Homo sapiens: one gene and its partners. The protein of the gene in region 3 interacts with the protein of the main gene of each other region in a pairwise test. Each region holds a gene or a part of one and is shown on either strand. Other genes may lie near its edges.

What was found. The genes of interacting proteins can lie anywhere in the genome.
Region 1: the proteins of STOM (region 3) and AIG1 interact in binary tests that used the Homo sapiens proteins (3 or more experiments, as listed by UniProt).
Region 2: the proteins of STOM (region 3) and PTCH1 interact in binary tests that used the Homo sapiens proteins (3 or more experiments, as listed by UniProt).
Region 4: the proteins of STOM (region 3) and PGA4 interact in binary tests that used the Homo sapiens proteins (3 or more experiments, as listed by UniProt).

The regions. Positions count from the first base shown.
Region 1 is NC_000006.12:143,067,389-143,070,888, reverse strand, and holds part of AIG1 (androgen-induced gene 1 protein), read right to left. Parts: intron 1-3,500. UniProt on the Homo sapiens protein: Hydrolyzes bioactive fatty-acid esters of hydroxy-fatty acids (FAHFAs), but not other major classes of lipids. Show a preference for FAHFAs with branching distal from the carboxylate head group of the lipids.
Region 2 is NC_000009.12:95,446,767-95,450,266, forward strand, and holds part of PTCH1 (protein patched homolog 1), read right to left. Parts: intron 3,175-3,500; coding exon 3,075-3,174; intron 2,558-3,074; coding exon 2,303-2,557; intron 686-2,302; coding exon 146-685; 3' UTR 145-145; intron 1-144.
Region 3 is NC_000009.12:121,342,751-121,346,250, forward strand, and holds part of STOM (stomatin), read right to left. Parts: intron 1-3,500. UniProt on the Homo sapiens protein: Regulates ion channel activity and transmembrane ion transport. Regulates ASIC2 and ASIC3 channel activity.
Region 4 is NC_000011.10:61,221,211-61,225,146, reverse strand, and holds the start of PGA4 (pepsin A-4 preproprotein), read right to left. Parts: upstream 2,801-3,936; 5' UTR 2,747-2,800; coding exon 2,691-2,746; intron 2,205-2,690; coding exon 2,042-2,204; intron 1-2,041. UniProt on the Homo sapiens protein: Shows particularly broad specificity; although bonds involving phenylalanine and leucine are preferred, many others are also cleaved to some extent.

The DNA of each region.
Region 1 (3,500 bases), on a different chromosome or scaffold from region 3:
CAATTAAAATGTCAATTAAATATAAAAGGGTCACTGCCGTTGAATGTTTTTGTCTCTAAAATTCATGTGGAAGCTTAATCCCCAATCTAACAGTATTAAGAAGTAAGGCCTTTTAAGAGGTGATTGAGTCATGAGGATTCTGCCATTAATGGATTAATGTGTTAACAGATTATCACAGGAGAGTTAGTTATCACAAGAGTGGGTCTGTCATAAAAGCTAGTTTGGCTCTTTCTCTTATGCCTCTCTTGTCCTGTGATGCCTTCCACCATGCTATGGTGCATCAAGAAGGCTCTCACCAGATGCCAGCACCATGCTTTTGTACTTTTGAGCCTCCAGAACTGTAAGACATAAGTTTCTTTTCTTTATAAATTACCCAGTCTGTGGTATTCTGTGATAGCAACACAAAATGGACTAAGAAAATAAAAATTTCTAAAAAAAAATTAAAAATACCATTCACAATAGCACTAATCAAAAATAAAATAGGTATAAACCTAACAAAATACACGCACAAACTATATGCTGAAAACTACAAAACATCAATGAAAGAAATTTAAAAATCTAAATAAATGAAGAGATATGTCATGTTCATGGGTTGGAAAAGTAAATATTGTTAAGATGTCCAACTTTCCCCAAATCGTTTTATAGATTCAATTAAATTCTACTAAAAAATCCAAGTACAATTATCTGTAGATATTAACAAGATTATTCTAAATTTAAACAAAAAGGAAAAGTAATTAGAATAGCATAAACAAATTTTGAAAAAGAACAAAGTTAGATGATTCTCACTACCTGCTTCGAAGATTTACTATAAAGCTGCAATCAACAATGTGTGGTACCTGTGAAGGGACACACACATCAGTGGAGCAGAACAGAATCCAGAAACAGACACACAAATGTAGTCAATTGATTTTTGACAAAGGTGCAAACGTAATTCAATGGCAAAATGACAATCTTTTCAAGACACGGTGCAGGGAAAATTGCACAACATATACCAGAAAAAAAGGATTATAGATAAAAATGTAAAACCTAAAACTTTAAAACTTCTAGGAGGTTCCATAAAAAGAAGAAAAATGGTAAATTTTGTATCATCAAAATGAACTTTTGCTCTGTTTAAGACACTATTGATAAAATAAACTACAGACAGGAAGAAAACATTTGCAAATCACATATTTGCCAAAGAGCTTTCATTTGGCAAACATAAAACCTCTCAAAGCTTAATAATAATAAAACAACCCAGTATTTTTTAAATGGGCAAACTTCACAAAGAACATGAATATATTATTAAAAGGCACAGGAAAAGATAATTAACAACTTCAGTCATGAGGGGAACTCAAAACCACAATGAGATAGTGCTACACACCTATTAGAATGGCTGAAATAAAAGAAAAATTGACAACGCCACACTCTGAAGATACAATATGAGTTCCCATCTGTGGAGCTCTCACACATTGCTGGTGGTAATGCAACATGGCACATCCACTCTGGAAAATTGTGCATCTATCAAAACTGTGCATCTATCAAAACTATGCATCTGTCAAAACTTACAGTATTGTATACTAAAAAGAATAAATTGGCCGCGCGCGGTGGCTCATGCCTGTAATCCCAATACTTCGGGAGGCCAAGGCAGGTGGATCGCTTGAGCCCAGGAGTTCGAGCCCAACCTGGGCAACATGGCGAAACCCCGTCTCTACTAAAAATACAAAAAAATTAGCCAGGAGTGGCGGCATGCACCTGTAATCCCAGCTACTCGGGAGGCTGAGGCGGGAGAGTCACTTGAACCTAGGAGATGGAGGTTGCAGTGAGCCGAGATCACGCCAGTGCACTCTAACCTGGGCGACAGAGTGAGACTCCATTTCAAGAGAAAAAAAAAAAAAGGAATAAATTTTAGTGTATGTGGATGAAGAATTTATAAAAACCATATGTTCATATTGAATTTTTTGTTTTTTTAACAGAAGTATATATATGACTGAAAAGTCAAATATCAAAATACTAACATCAGTATCTCTAAGTGATATCCGTAATTTTAAAATAAGTTTTAAAGAATATGATTTTTTCTGATATCTGACTACATACGTATGAACACACATATACATATATACTGTAGTCTCTCTATGTTCCTGTATGTACTAAAGTTCCAAAATAAATACCATCCTGAAGCACTAAAATGCTAAGATGCAAGGAAAATTAGGGAGAATTAAGATGGACTATATTTTCTTCCCTGTATTTCTATTGTTTCCTGTATTTGCACAAATTTTCTATAATAAGTATGTATCGCTTTTGAAATTAATTTTTAAAATTATAACACAACCTGACAGACCTAAATATAAGACAATGTGAGTGCACTAATGCATTGTCTGACTTTTCAGAATTCCATGCTTCTGTCTTACATCTTGTTCAATTCCACAATGGATCTGATCAAGTGGTGTCTCACTTTCCAAGAAAGCTCTGCTTCCACCGCACTCAGAAGGGCTACCCTGCAGGTGAGGCATGGGCCCTTTAACTGTCTAACTACAGACTGCACAAGAGAGCTATGTTGTATAGAATCCTAAGCAGTAAGATTTTTCCAAGCACGCTTGGATCACATGAACATCTGATTCAATGTGGAAAATTGTACTGTTGTTCTTGCTTCCCCCAGAAACATGACATTTCAGAGGAACACACAGAAACAAATGAAAACCCTCAAGAGCAGTTACCAATTTTGCCAAATGTTATACCAGACATGGGGGAATGGCAGGAATGGGAAAAGAAGTGACCTCAACTAGTGGTCAGATGACTTTCTGTAATTTCAATACCATTTGCAACTAAGAGGGAATGGGTGATTATATCATCAACTATTTCCCCCACTCTAACAAAACCAGGCCCCTATTTTATGCCTGATCCAAAAGAAACATGCAAAGAAGGTGAAGAGGATTCTATGCAAAGCATTATTCTCACAATTCTTCCTCCAGGTTAGGAAAAAACATTATTTGAGCCTTCAAGTTTATATGCATATTTTAGGGTCAAGTCTGAGTCTCCTGAAGAAAAAAATTGCAATTTTACACTCTCTGTATAATATCCAAAACCCCAAAAAACAAAAAACAGAAAAAAATCCACCTAATTTTGTTCCCTGAGTACTCAATAAACTACTGGCCTTCACGTGGCAATGTGTGGTTTTGACTGGCAAAACTAAGTACCATAGTTACATAATGACATGCAGAATCTCTTCTCAAGGTATTTTATTTCCTATTTAAAATTAAGTCATGAACTAGAGACAAGAATATGTTTTATGATAAGTATGTAAATAAATATAAGACTAACTCAAATGCAAAATGTAGTATACTTAAGCAGCTTATTTTCCCTCTTTAACATTTTTTAAATGTCAAAAATTCTCAGCATGTCTAAAAGCAAAAATGGTATCGTCCAGGTACACTTGACTATTTCCTATTCTTTGAGCACCCCAAGCTTTTCCACATCTGAGACTTTATTTATCCTCATCTCTCTCTGGTTTTCTGAAATTCCTT
Region 2 (3,500 bases), about 26 Mb from region 3:
CTGGGGATAAAAGGTCACTGGGGTCCAGCGTGGGATGTGCCCGAGCGCCACAGCCCCTCGGGGATGCCGAGAACCCCAGGAGAACCTTGTCCTCCTCTTTGCCTGGCTCTAGGTCCCTTGGCTGCCCTTGTCAGTGGCACTCACCTCAGTTGGAGCTGCTTCCCCGGGGCCTCTCCTCGCATTCCACGTCCTGCAGCTCAATGACTTCCACCTTCGAATCCCTCCTCTCACACCGGACGTGGAAAGGCACGTGGGGGTCCTCAAACAGGCCGTGGTCAGTCTCAGGGTAGCCTGGGCAGAGTCCCCCTCGGGGGTTCCGCCCAGGCCCAGGGACAGGCGGCGGGTGCACGGCGACAGTCACGGAGGCAGAAGCCGTCACAGTGGTGATGGGCTGGCAGTAGCCGGGCACGGAGCTGCCCATGGCAGTGGACGCTGGGTTCCGAGGGTTGTGAGAACGGGCCCCGCGAGGGCCCCAGCGGGCCCTATTGCTAGGGCCAGAATGCCCTTCAGTAGAAATTTCAAAAGCGTCTCTGCGCGGTCTGTAGGGGGGTGGCCACAAGCCTTCTCTGGGGGGGTCCCTGCGGGGCTGCTGGCCTTGCCGTCCGGGAGGCAGGGACCCTGAGTCCAGGTGGGGCTGCTGTCTCGGGTTCGAGGGTGGGTGATGCCTGGATTCGGGATGGACCACCTGCAGAGGGTGAGGGTGGGTTAGAAGGGTGGTATCCCAGGCTGGGCATGGTCCCCGCAGCTCCCACACTTCCCTCCTTGGGTTTCACCAAAGACTCAGTCAACCCTGGGGAGCCAATGGGGGCCTTCCACCCACAAAAGAAAAGCCTGTCCTTCTAATAACCTCCAGGACCTGGCGGAGGAGCGTGTTGTTTGAAAATCCTGTTTCCAGGCTTTCTCTGACACGGCTGGCTGGACACGTACTGCTGCTGCCCATAAATGTGGGCTGTGGTCAGAGCATCCAAGCTGCTGCCCCCCACAACCTGCCCCCGACCCTGTTAGGTTCTGCAGGCTCTGAGCTGCCCCTCTCCCGAAGTTGCTAAGTGTGCGGCCCTGGCTGGCCTGAGTGCAGGACGCTGGCAGGACTGTCTCTGCCTACTCTGTCAAACACAGTAGCCGCTCCAGACATGTGGTTGCTTAAGTTTTAATGAACTAAAATCCAAAATCCAGCTCCTCGGTAGCCCCGGCCACATTTCAAGTGCTCCACAGCCACGTGTGGCCGGTGGCTCCCATCCTGGAAAGCAGAGAGGGCATTTTCGTCACTGCGGAGGGCTGTGGCGGGCAGCCTGTTCCATCTGATTGTTAAGAATCTGGTCTCTGCGTCTCTATACAAAGCACAGAGCAACACAGTGGCCACATCAATCAAAAGGACCGTGACCAACTTCAAAGTCGTTCAGCTTGTACCTATTTTTAGGCTCCTGCTGAACAAAACCAGATTCACACTGCAGCTCAGCGGGCGTCGTCGCGGGGGGTAGGAGGAGGACAATTCAGGTTATTTGGTTGGCCTTTCTCTCTTTCACGGAAGGGCTGCTCTGGCCTGGGACTGGAATACCCATTTCCTGGAGGGACAGCAGGGGGCCCTCAGTGGAGCAACATCAGCCCAGAACCTTCCTTGAGTTTTCAGGGCTGAGCCCATCCCAGGGAGCACAGGGTGGAGGAAAGGACCCAGGTCCTTGGAGCCTCCGAGGAGGGGCTCCCAGGCTCCTGGTGACCTCCTGAATCACTGAAGGCTAAGAACTCAGGGGTGGTTCTTGGCCTCTCTGCTCTTTCCTGCCACCTGGAACATGAGCTTGGAGCCCCAAAAGCTATGGTAAAGTATTTAGACAATAATAATGAATGTTGTATCAAGGGCATTGAAACCTAACAGAAATGAGAGAAGGAAAAAACCTGACCTCTGTTGGCAATAAAAATACTACTAGTTTTAGAAAATATCACTCTCAAATGACATGCACCTTAAGAGGAAAAAAAAAAAAAAGGCAGGAATGCTTTATCTCTGGCCTTTGAAGCCCAAACTGTCCTCACCCTGAACAAGATAGATGCTACTGCTTTGTGCAGTGACATTACTGGCCCCTGCCCTTTTTATCCTTTATGAGATCAAACCACAGGAAGATGGCATTTGTATAGTTGAGAAAGAGTTAAATACTGGTTATTTCCTATGATTTGACCTAGTCTGTACCTTATCTCTGCATCCCATCTGCCTGTGTGATGTGCTGCTCAGCAGACAGGAGCCCCCGCTGGACCTCCAGGCCCACTACCACGGTGGGAAGACCCCTCCCCCTGGTTCTGCAGAGTCACTTACAGTGGAGTGGGCGAAGACGGGGTTTTCTGTGGCTTCCACGATCACTTGGTGGGCAGGGCCTCCCGCGCCCTGCTGGGCCTCGTAGTGCCGAAGCTCCTCGCTGAGGCCTGACACTGTCGTCTGGGAACTATACTCCGAGTCGGAGGAATCAGACCCGCTGTGCGTGTGGCCGGGCGGCATGGCGAAGCGGACCACGCTGGGGGGTGGCTCAGGGGAGGGTGTGGGCAGGCGGTTCAAGCCGTTGGCTGGAGACACCTATTTAAGGGGATTCCATGTTAAAAGTGTTCTTGTCCATTTACCTGCTGGCCACACTCAAAGCTCAAAGCACGGTATTTTTCAGGGGCCTCTGTTCCCTGCCCTGGGGCCCTGCGCACTGTGCCGTATTAACCTCCCCTTCTCTACCACCTGGAGGACCTTCAGGTCCCGCAGCTGGAGCAGAAGAACTGTCCTCTGCTCCACACTGGAAAGGCAGGATGTGTACTTTTTACTCTTGTGAAGTCCAATTATGCATCTCAAGGGGAAAGTCTTCATTTACTGTATAAAGATCTGTAAGACCCAGGCTGCCAATCAGTTGATTTAGAGGAACCAAACCGAACCCGCCCTCTAGCCCTCAAAGCCAGTACACCGAAGAGGAAAACAGACATGACTCTGAGATGTTTACTGAAGAACCACCAGCAAGTGGGGAGGCACCTAAGTATCGAAGTGAAGAGCGGCACAGGAAACACAGCATTCAGCCGGCCTACACGTGGGACATCCCCGTGTCACTACTGACCTCAGGATATGGTCCAAAGAAAGACAAAAGCACGGGAAGCAAAACCAGCCCATTGAGAACGCCGAGGATGGTGAGGATCGCCAGCACAGCAAAGAAATACCTGGGAGATCAAGAGGAAACGGGAACACGCGCTGTGACAGGGTGGATCGCGCCACCCTCCGTGTGCCCGACACAGCAGCATGGCAACGCCAGAAATGAACAAAACCCACCCCACTGAAAAGGCTGTTATCCAACCGCAGTTCACATTCAACACAAGGTGAGTTTTTGCTTTTTGTTTCTTTACCTTATGACTTTGAGGACTACATTCCACAACCCAAAGTGTTAGTTCATGAAGGGAAGAAAAAAAAAATTAGTTTGTTAATTTGCTGAACTCTGATGGCATGTAATGTTATTTATGAATGTGTTACACAAACACAAAAATATGGA
Region 3 (3,500 bases):
AGTACATAAATTCAAGATGAAAAATTTTTACATGCCGATTTAAAATGTTTGATGGACTTTATAGTTTTTCTAAATTCTGTAAGGGGTTTCACAGGCAAAAAAGTTTGAAGATCACTCGAGTAGTAGACAGAACAGGAGTTCTGGAGTCAAATGGACTTGAGTTCAAATCCCAAATCTAACATTTACCAGCCGAATGTCCTCAGAGAGGTTACTGAACATCCTGAACCTCAGTTTCCCATTCTTAAAGCAGACTAACATGTACTTCAGAGGACCACTTGTGAGGAAGACAGAGAAAGTATATAAAGTGTTAAATGAATAAAGGGGGCTATTATAGAGGAATGGCAAGTGACAAGACCTGATTTTTGGGTCCAACTATGCTTTAATGCACAAAAGATTCAAGGTAGTTACTTTAATTCATAATCCTAGAAGAAGGAAAGGTATTAAGACACCATAATTATCAAGATTAAAAGTACAATTTCTCCAGGTTATTATCCTCACTTGAATCTTGAATAATTAATGGTCCATAATACTCCATGAATATCAGAATTGGAGGTGATGGTCTTATGCCCAGTGAGATTTCATTCACTCACACAGCAAAATTTGGGGGCCTTCTAGGGTTAATAAGCCCTGTGTAGGAAAAGCTAAGGATAGAGTGGAATCCCTAGCCTTCTTCAGCTCCTGGTCAGGTAGGGAAGGCAGACATGGAAGTAGATCATTTCATTCTAGTGTGATAAATGCTGACAGACATATGTACAAGGCACAGTGCAAGCAAACAGAAGAAAGCAACTTTTCCAGAGGGTGACGTGGTGAGGTTATAGAAGTTGAATATTAAATGATAAAATGTTTGCTGTTTAGAAAAAGATGAGGAAGAATATTTTGGGCAGAACACATGAAACGGTACTGAGGTATAAAAATGGTATATTCCAGAAAACTGTCAATGGCTGAATACTATGGCAGGAAGAGGGGAAAGGTGGGGGATGAATGGGGCCGGGTTCTGAAGGGCAGTGAGGGCCAGGGTGTTTGGTCTTCATTCTGTAGGCAATGGGAAGCTGCAGAATGATTTTAAGCAGGTAAGTAAACTCCATCAGATCTAGTTTGAAAAAGCTCTCTGACAGATGTCTGAGGTTAGAAGAGAAGGCAGTGAAAGCTGCTAGTGGAACTGCTTTAGAGTGGCCGGTGCGATTCATAGGTGGTGGGGACAGAGAATGAAATGGTTTGGGGAGCTATTCTCCCTCCCCGAAGGAGGGCGAATCAGTGGAATTTGGAGACTAGGTAGGAGGAGGAAAGGGGGACACAGGCTGAGACCCAGGTTTCCAGGTTTTGGTTGCATAGATTAGTGCCATTAATGGAGATAGGATACAGAATATAGTACTCACTGAGAGAAAGGATCCAGCTTATAGGATAAAAACCTTAATTTATCAAAGCCACACATCATGTCCTGCCTAGGTCTGTGAGAAGGGACAAGTGCCAGCTTTGCTCAAAGAAAACCACAGAACTGTATTCCAAGGTAGGCACTACAGAGAATACATCAGAAATCCCCTGCTATGAGAGCAGCAGGCTCTCATTTTTTCCATATCATCTCAGATGTCCAATTAGGCACTTTTTTCTTTGGACATGGACCAACTGAAAAGATATCTCATTTCCCACCACCAATCAATACACAATCGCTTGGCTGAGAAGCCAGACCCACCGGGCTGGGCACACATTTTGTTCATAGAAAAGCCACACTGAGCAAGCTGCCAAAGATGTAAACAACACCACCGGCTTTGTCTAAATACAGGCCAAGTACACTCCGTTGATAGGATCTTAGAGAGCAAAGCAAGCTATTTGTGGGTGTGCACGGCTTTTGTCGAATGTGCAGTAATCTCATAGCAATCAACATTTCATATTTATAGAACATCATTTTAAAGTCTGGCATTTTCATGTATGTGAAATTGGTGCTACCTGTCCCTTCTGCAGACCAGGTGGTCTGGGCAGAGGAAAAGGCAGAGAAAGGTGATCTGTATTTCTGCACTCCATCCTCTCAATTAATAGACTTCTACACCCAGAAACATGAGCCCAAAAGCATGTGCCAGGTGTTTTTCTGAGAGTTATGAAAAGGAAATAAAAGCTGATGCAAACACAAAAGATATTACATTTCAGGCCACTAAGAGCTGGTCTAAACACTTTAAAAACCAAACCTAACATACAGAGAAACACGTAGGAGAATCTGTCCTCTTCTGTGACCGGCTTCTTTCACTCAAATTATGTGTGTGAGCACTTACATTCATTCTCTTTGCTATGTAGTATGCCTACATGTGAATAAACCAGACTTCATTCATTCAGCTAGGAATGGACATTTGGGTATTCTACAGTTTGGGTCAATGTGCTGCTGTGAACATTCTAGTACATGCCTTTTGGTAAACATATGAGTGCATTTCTGTTAGATTCATACTTAGGAGTTGGAGCTGCTGGCTCATAGGGTATACAAATGTTCAGTATGAATAGACATTGCCAGACTGTTTTCCACAGTGGTTGTATTAAGTTACACTGCCACCAGCAGAATATGAGAGTTCTAGTTCCTCTCTCACCCACACTTGGTTCTTTTCCGTTCTTTTCAGGCCATTCTGATAGCTGTCTAGTGTGACATCCGCTTATAATGTGAATTTGCATTTCCCCGATGGCTAATTAGCCTAAGGAATTTTTCTATAAAGTCTCTTAATCTTTAGATTATTCCACTCTATCTCACCTTTCCTGTGCAATTTATTTGTTGAAGAAACTGTGACCCCCCTATTTTCCATGAGAATTTCAATACAATAAGCCTATGGTTGTTGCAGGGTTACTGTATTTTACAGAAGGGCTAGGCTCATTGTGATTCTATGTGTGAACTCCAAGACAGTCACTGCCCAGGTTCATGAGACTGCTTCTAGACTAACCCTACAGCCCCGTCCAAGTGGGAGCATGGCAATTCAGAATTCTAAGCGGTTTCTTCTATCTTTTCTTACTGTTATAAAGGGAAGATAGAAATTTTCTTTCCAAACTCTTAAGAATGCTATGGAAGAGGCTCATAGCCCATCCTGGGAAGTCAGTACTAGAGGAGGCAATGAGGAGCAGAGGGGAATTCTAATTTCCACTGCTACTAATCAACTGTGCGACCTTGCGGACGTCACTTAACTTTTCAGAGCTTCAATTTTTCCTTTGAATAGTGGGATGGCAAACAAGTTTCATTTTTTTTTAAGTTTTTATTATTATTAATTTTTTATTTAATTTAATTTTTTTGAGAAGAAGTCTTGCTCTGTCGCCTGGGCTGAAGTGCAGTGGCGCAATCTCAGCTCACTGCAACCTCCACCTCCAGGGTTCAAGCAATTCTCCTTCTCAGCCTCCCCAGTAGCTGGGATTACAGGCGCCTACCACCACACCAGGCTACTCTTTGTATTTTTAGTAAGGACGGGGTTTCACCATGGTGGCCAGGCTGGTCTTGAACTCCTCACCTCAGGTGATCCACCCACCTCAGCCTCCCA
Region 4 (3,936 bases), on a different chromosome or scaffold from region 3:
GTCTTCCCTGATTGCTCCCCCAATTTACCCTCTGCTCTCTGTTAAGCACCACAAGCACCTAACAATCTGCTGTTCCCTCTTTAGCCATTGTCTTGTCTGTCACAGTCTTCCCATCCGTACAGCGCATGTTCTCAGAGGATGGCGGTGGAACCTTCTAGCACCGGGCAAGTTACAGCTTAAGTGCTTGTGCCTTAAATTGTTTATCAGAAGCTAAGCAAGCCACTTAAAGATGGAAACCTGTCCAGTTTTCTTATTTCTACATCTAGATGTGTATAGCAGGTTGCAAGAAAGGGCATTGACAGTATTTTTATTCTTTTTTTTTGAGACAAGTCTCACTCTGTTGTCCAGGCGGGAGTGCAGTGGCGCGACCTCGGCTCACTGCAGCCTCCTCCTCCTGGGTTCCAGTGATTCTCCTGCCTCAACCTCCCAAGTAGCTGAGATTACAGGTGTGTGCCATCATGCCCGGCAAATTTTTGTATTTTTAGTAGAGACGGGGTTTCACCATGTTGCCGGGCTGGTCTCGAACTCCTGACCTCAAGTGATCCACCCGCCTCCGCCAATCAACCAGTATTTTTCTTGTTAGTGGCAGCATTTTCCCCCTGCCGGCTCTGTTCCCGCCACACTGGTCTGCTTGCTGTTCTTTGGCGATGACCAGTCACTCCTGCCCTAGGGCCTTTGCACTGGCTATTCCTTGTGCTAGGAAAATGTTTATTCTAGATCTTTCCTTGGCTGATCCTTTTATCAAAAATCAATCATTCAGCTCTCTAGTCAAATGTCCCCTCTGCCAACAGGCCTTCCGTGACCACTTTATCTAAATTTGCCCCCTCTCAATCTTCTTGTTCCCCATGCTCCCATTAATTAATTTGCCAAGGCCCTTATCATTACCTGAAATTATCTTACATGGTTGTTTATTTGTTATCCCCTTTAGAGTATAAGCTCCAGGAACTTTGATTATTCACCATCATTTTGGCAACTTGCATAGCCTCTGGCACATAGAGAGGTGCCAATATTTGTTAAATATTTGTGAACTAAATAAATGCGCTAATTAAGCCTCTTACCAAGGGCCTGGCAGACCCCATGCTAAGCACTCCAGAAAACATGATCGTGTTAATTCCTGGCAACATCCTCTGACGGTAGATATTAGTGGTTCTGTTTTCCAGACCAAGACACAGGCTCAGAGTATTTAAATGACTTGGCCAAGGTCCTGTGGCTTAGAGGCACTAGGACCCATATTTGCACCAGGTCTGCTGGATGGCAGAGGCCAGTCTCTGAACCACAGGCATCACTGCTTTGTGCCCTGTGCCAGTCACAGAGGGGACATACAATATCTGCAGGAGGGCAGGGTGTTTGCTATCGGGTCTCAAATAACAAAGTCAGGGTGATCTTTCTGAAACTCAGATCTGATCTTGTCATCCCCCTGTTTAAGATAAATCAGAGGCAGTTAGGATGGAGCCTCTCTGCGTCCACCCCTCAGTTCCTCGGACCGCAGTCTGCAGCACCCTTCTTCCCTCCCTCTCGGCTCCCCTTCAAAGGCACTGTGCTCCCGCCTGCTACAGGGTTTGGCACAAGGGATCAGGCTATGCGGAGTTCTGTCTTGTTCTCTTGGAAACTCCTGCTCTTCCTGCGTGGCTCCAGGGAGGCTCCCTGCCCAAGTGGCAGACTCTCGCAGTGTGACACCGTCACTCTGTAGTCCTCCTGCTGCCTGTTCTTTTCATTGGTTTGCGAGACCCCTTGATGACTGTGTTTGTCTCCTAGGCTATGAGTTTGCTCACTGCTGTCTCCCCCTGAGCCCAGCACAGGCCCTGAAATAGAATGAGGCGCTCAGAGAAATTAACATTGCATGAACGAGTGAACGAATGAATGAATGAACTCTGACTGTGAGCTTTCCTGCCTGCCCTGGGCCACTGACATCTAGGGGGCAGACTCTGGGTCACTGCCTGGAGCCACAGAGCCCAGGCCCGTCCTCCAAGACCCCTGGGACACCCTCTTTCCTGCGGGCCAAGTCCTCAGAGCTGGCCCCACCACTTGCCCGCACACTCACATCCAGGTAGTTCTCCAGGGGCTGTTCATCTACCAGGGTGGGAGCCTCCCACTGGGGGAAGTACTTTCTGGCTGGGTTGAGGTTGTGCTTCTTCAGGAAGTCCTTCAGCAGGCCACGCTCGGACAGGGTGCGCCTCAAGGACTTCTTTCTGATGAGGGGGACCCTGTGGTTTGGAGAAGGAAGAGGAATTAGGCAAGGATTCTGCTGACCGGGTGCTGTGGCAGCCCCAGAAGGGAAGGGAAGCTGGTCTAAGAGAGGAAGAAGGAAGGAAAGGAGACGCCCCCTCTTCTGCCCAACAATGCAAAGAAGTTAAGTTGACTAGTGCTGGAGCTGGGAGCCAAACCCAGGCTGGACTCTTAACCAGCTGATCTAAGAGAGGAAGATGGAAGGAAGGGAGAAGCTCCCACTTCTGCCCCATAATGCAAAGAAGTTAAGCTGACTAGGGCTGGAGCTGGGAACCACAGTCAGGCTGGGCCCGAGTTTTAACCATGTCTGCAGGGCTGCCTCCCAAAAAGGCAGAGAGAGAGGCGGAAAAGGGGGATGGAGACAGCTGAAGAGAGAGAGAAAAAAAAGGGAAGAAGGAAGACACGGGAGGAAAGAAAGGTGATGTGGGAGGCAGCGTCTTCACACCCACACCACCCGGACTCACTTGTACATGATGCACTCAGAGAGCGCCACCAGACCCAGCAGCAGCAGCCACTTCATGGTTCTTCCCGGGTCCCAACTCGAGGGAGAAGGCAAGATGGGAGGAAGGTGCAGAGCAGCAGCATGAGCTGCCCCTTATATACAAGTTGGGTCCCGCCTTATCGGCCTCTGAAAGTCACCGGTTCCCCTGATCCCAAACAGAGAAGCTCCTGATAAGATTGTGGCTGCCCTGAGCCACATTCTGAGACCTTTCCAGCTGAGGCACTTTCCATTGTAACCTTGCACCATGGGGAGGGGGGAGGGTGCCATGGGGGTGGACCCGCAGAGAGAGAGAGGAGCAATGACCGGGAGGCTATTTTCTTTTCTTTTCTTTTTCTTTCTTTTCTTTCTTTCTTTTTTCTTTTTCTTTCTAAGCAATGACCTGGAGGCTTATTTGTTTTCTTTTCCTTTCTTTCCTTTCTTTTCTTTCCTTCCTTTCCTTCTTTCTTTCCCTTTCTTTCTTTTTCTTTCTTTCTTTTCTTTCTTTCTCTTTCTCTCTTTCTCTCTCTCTCTCTCTTTCTTTCTTTCTTTCTTTCTTTTCCTCTCTTTCTCCCTTTCTCCCTTTCTCCATTTCTTTCCTTTCTTTCCTGAGGGAGTTTTGCTCTGTCGCGCCGCCAGAGGCTTATTTCTGAAGCATTGACAAGGGCCTACGTTAAAACTTTACCAGCTGAGCATTTTGACAAAGTTGGTTAAAAGTGCGTTTAACACAGCATTGGAGAGATGTGAAGGAGCCCCAGGTGGCCTGATTTGTCCCAGAGGGCATGCAGCTGGGGTTCTTAGAGAGCAGCCTCCCGACTCAGTCATAGGTGGTACTGGTTGTGGTCACTGCTTATTCACAGCACATTGGGGGGGTCAGTCGTTTGGGACTCAGGACACAATTCCCCACATAAGTGTCATTGTGTGGGGTTGTTGGGCGTCTGACTAGCCTATGGGCCTTGTGGCTTGCTTTTGGTGCAACTGGGCTGAGTCTGGGAAGGAGATGTGCACAGTACACGGGGGAGGAGGGAGACAGCACCGGGAGAATGCTGCCTTCCCTTCCTGGAGGAGGCAAACTTCAGACAGGCCAGGTATGTCTTTGGAATCTGTGTCCCTCCCTTTCTGCACCGCTTCTCTTTCTTTTGCTCCTTTCCCACCCTCTCCACCTTTGAGATCCCACCTGGGTCTGATTTCTCCAGGTGCTCCAGGCTTACAACTGGGTTGAAATCAGCTAC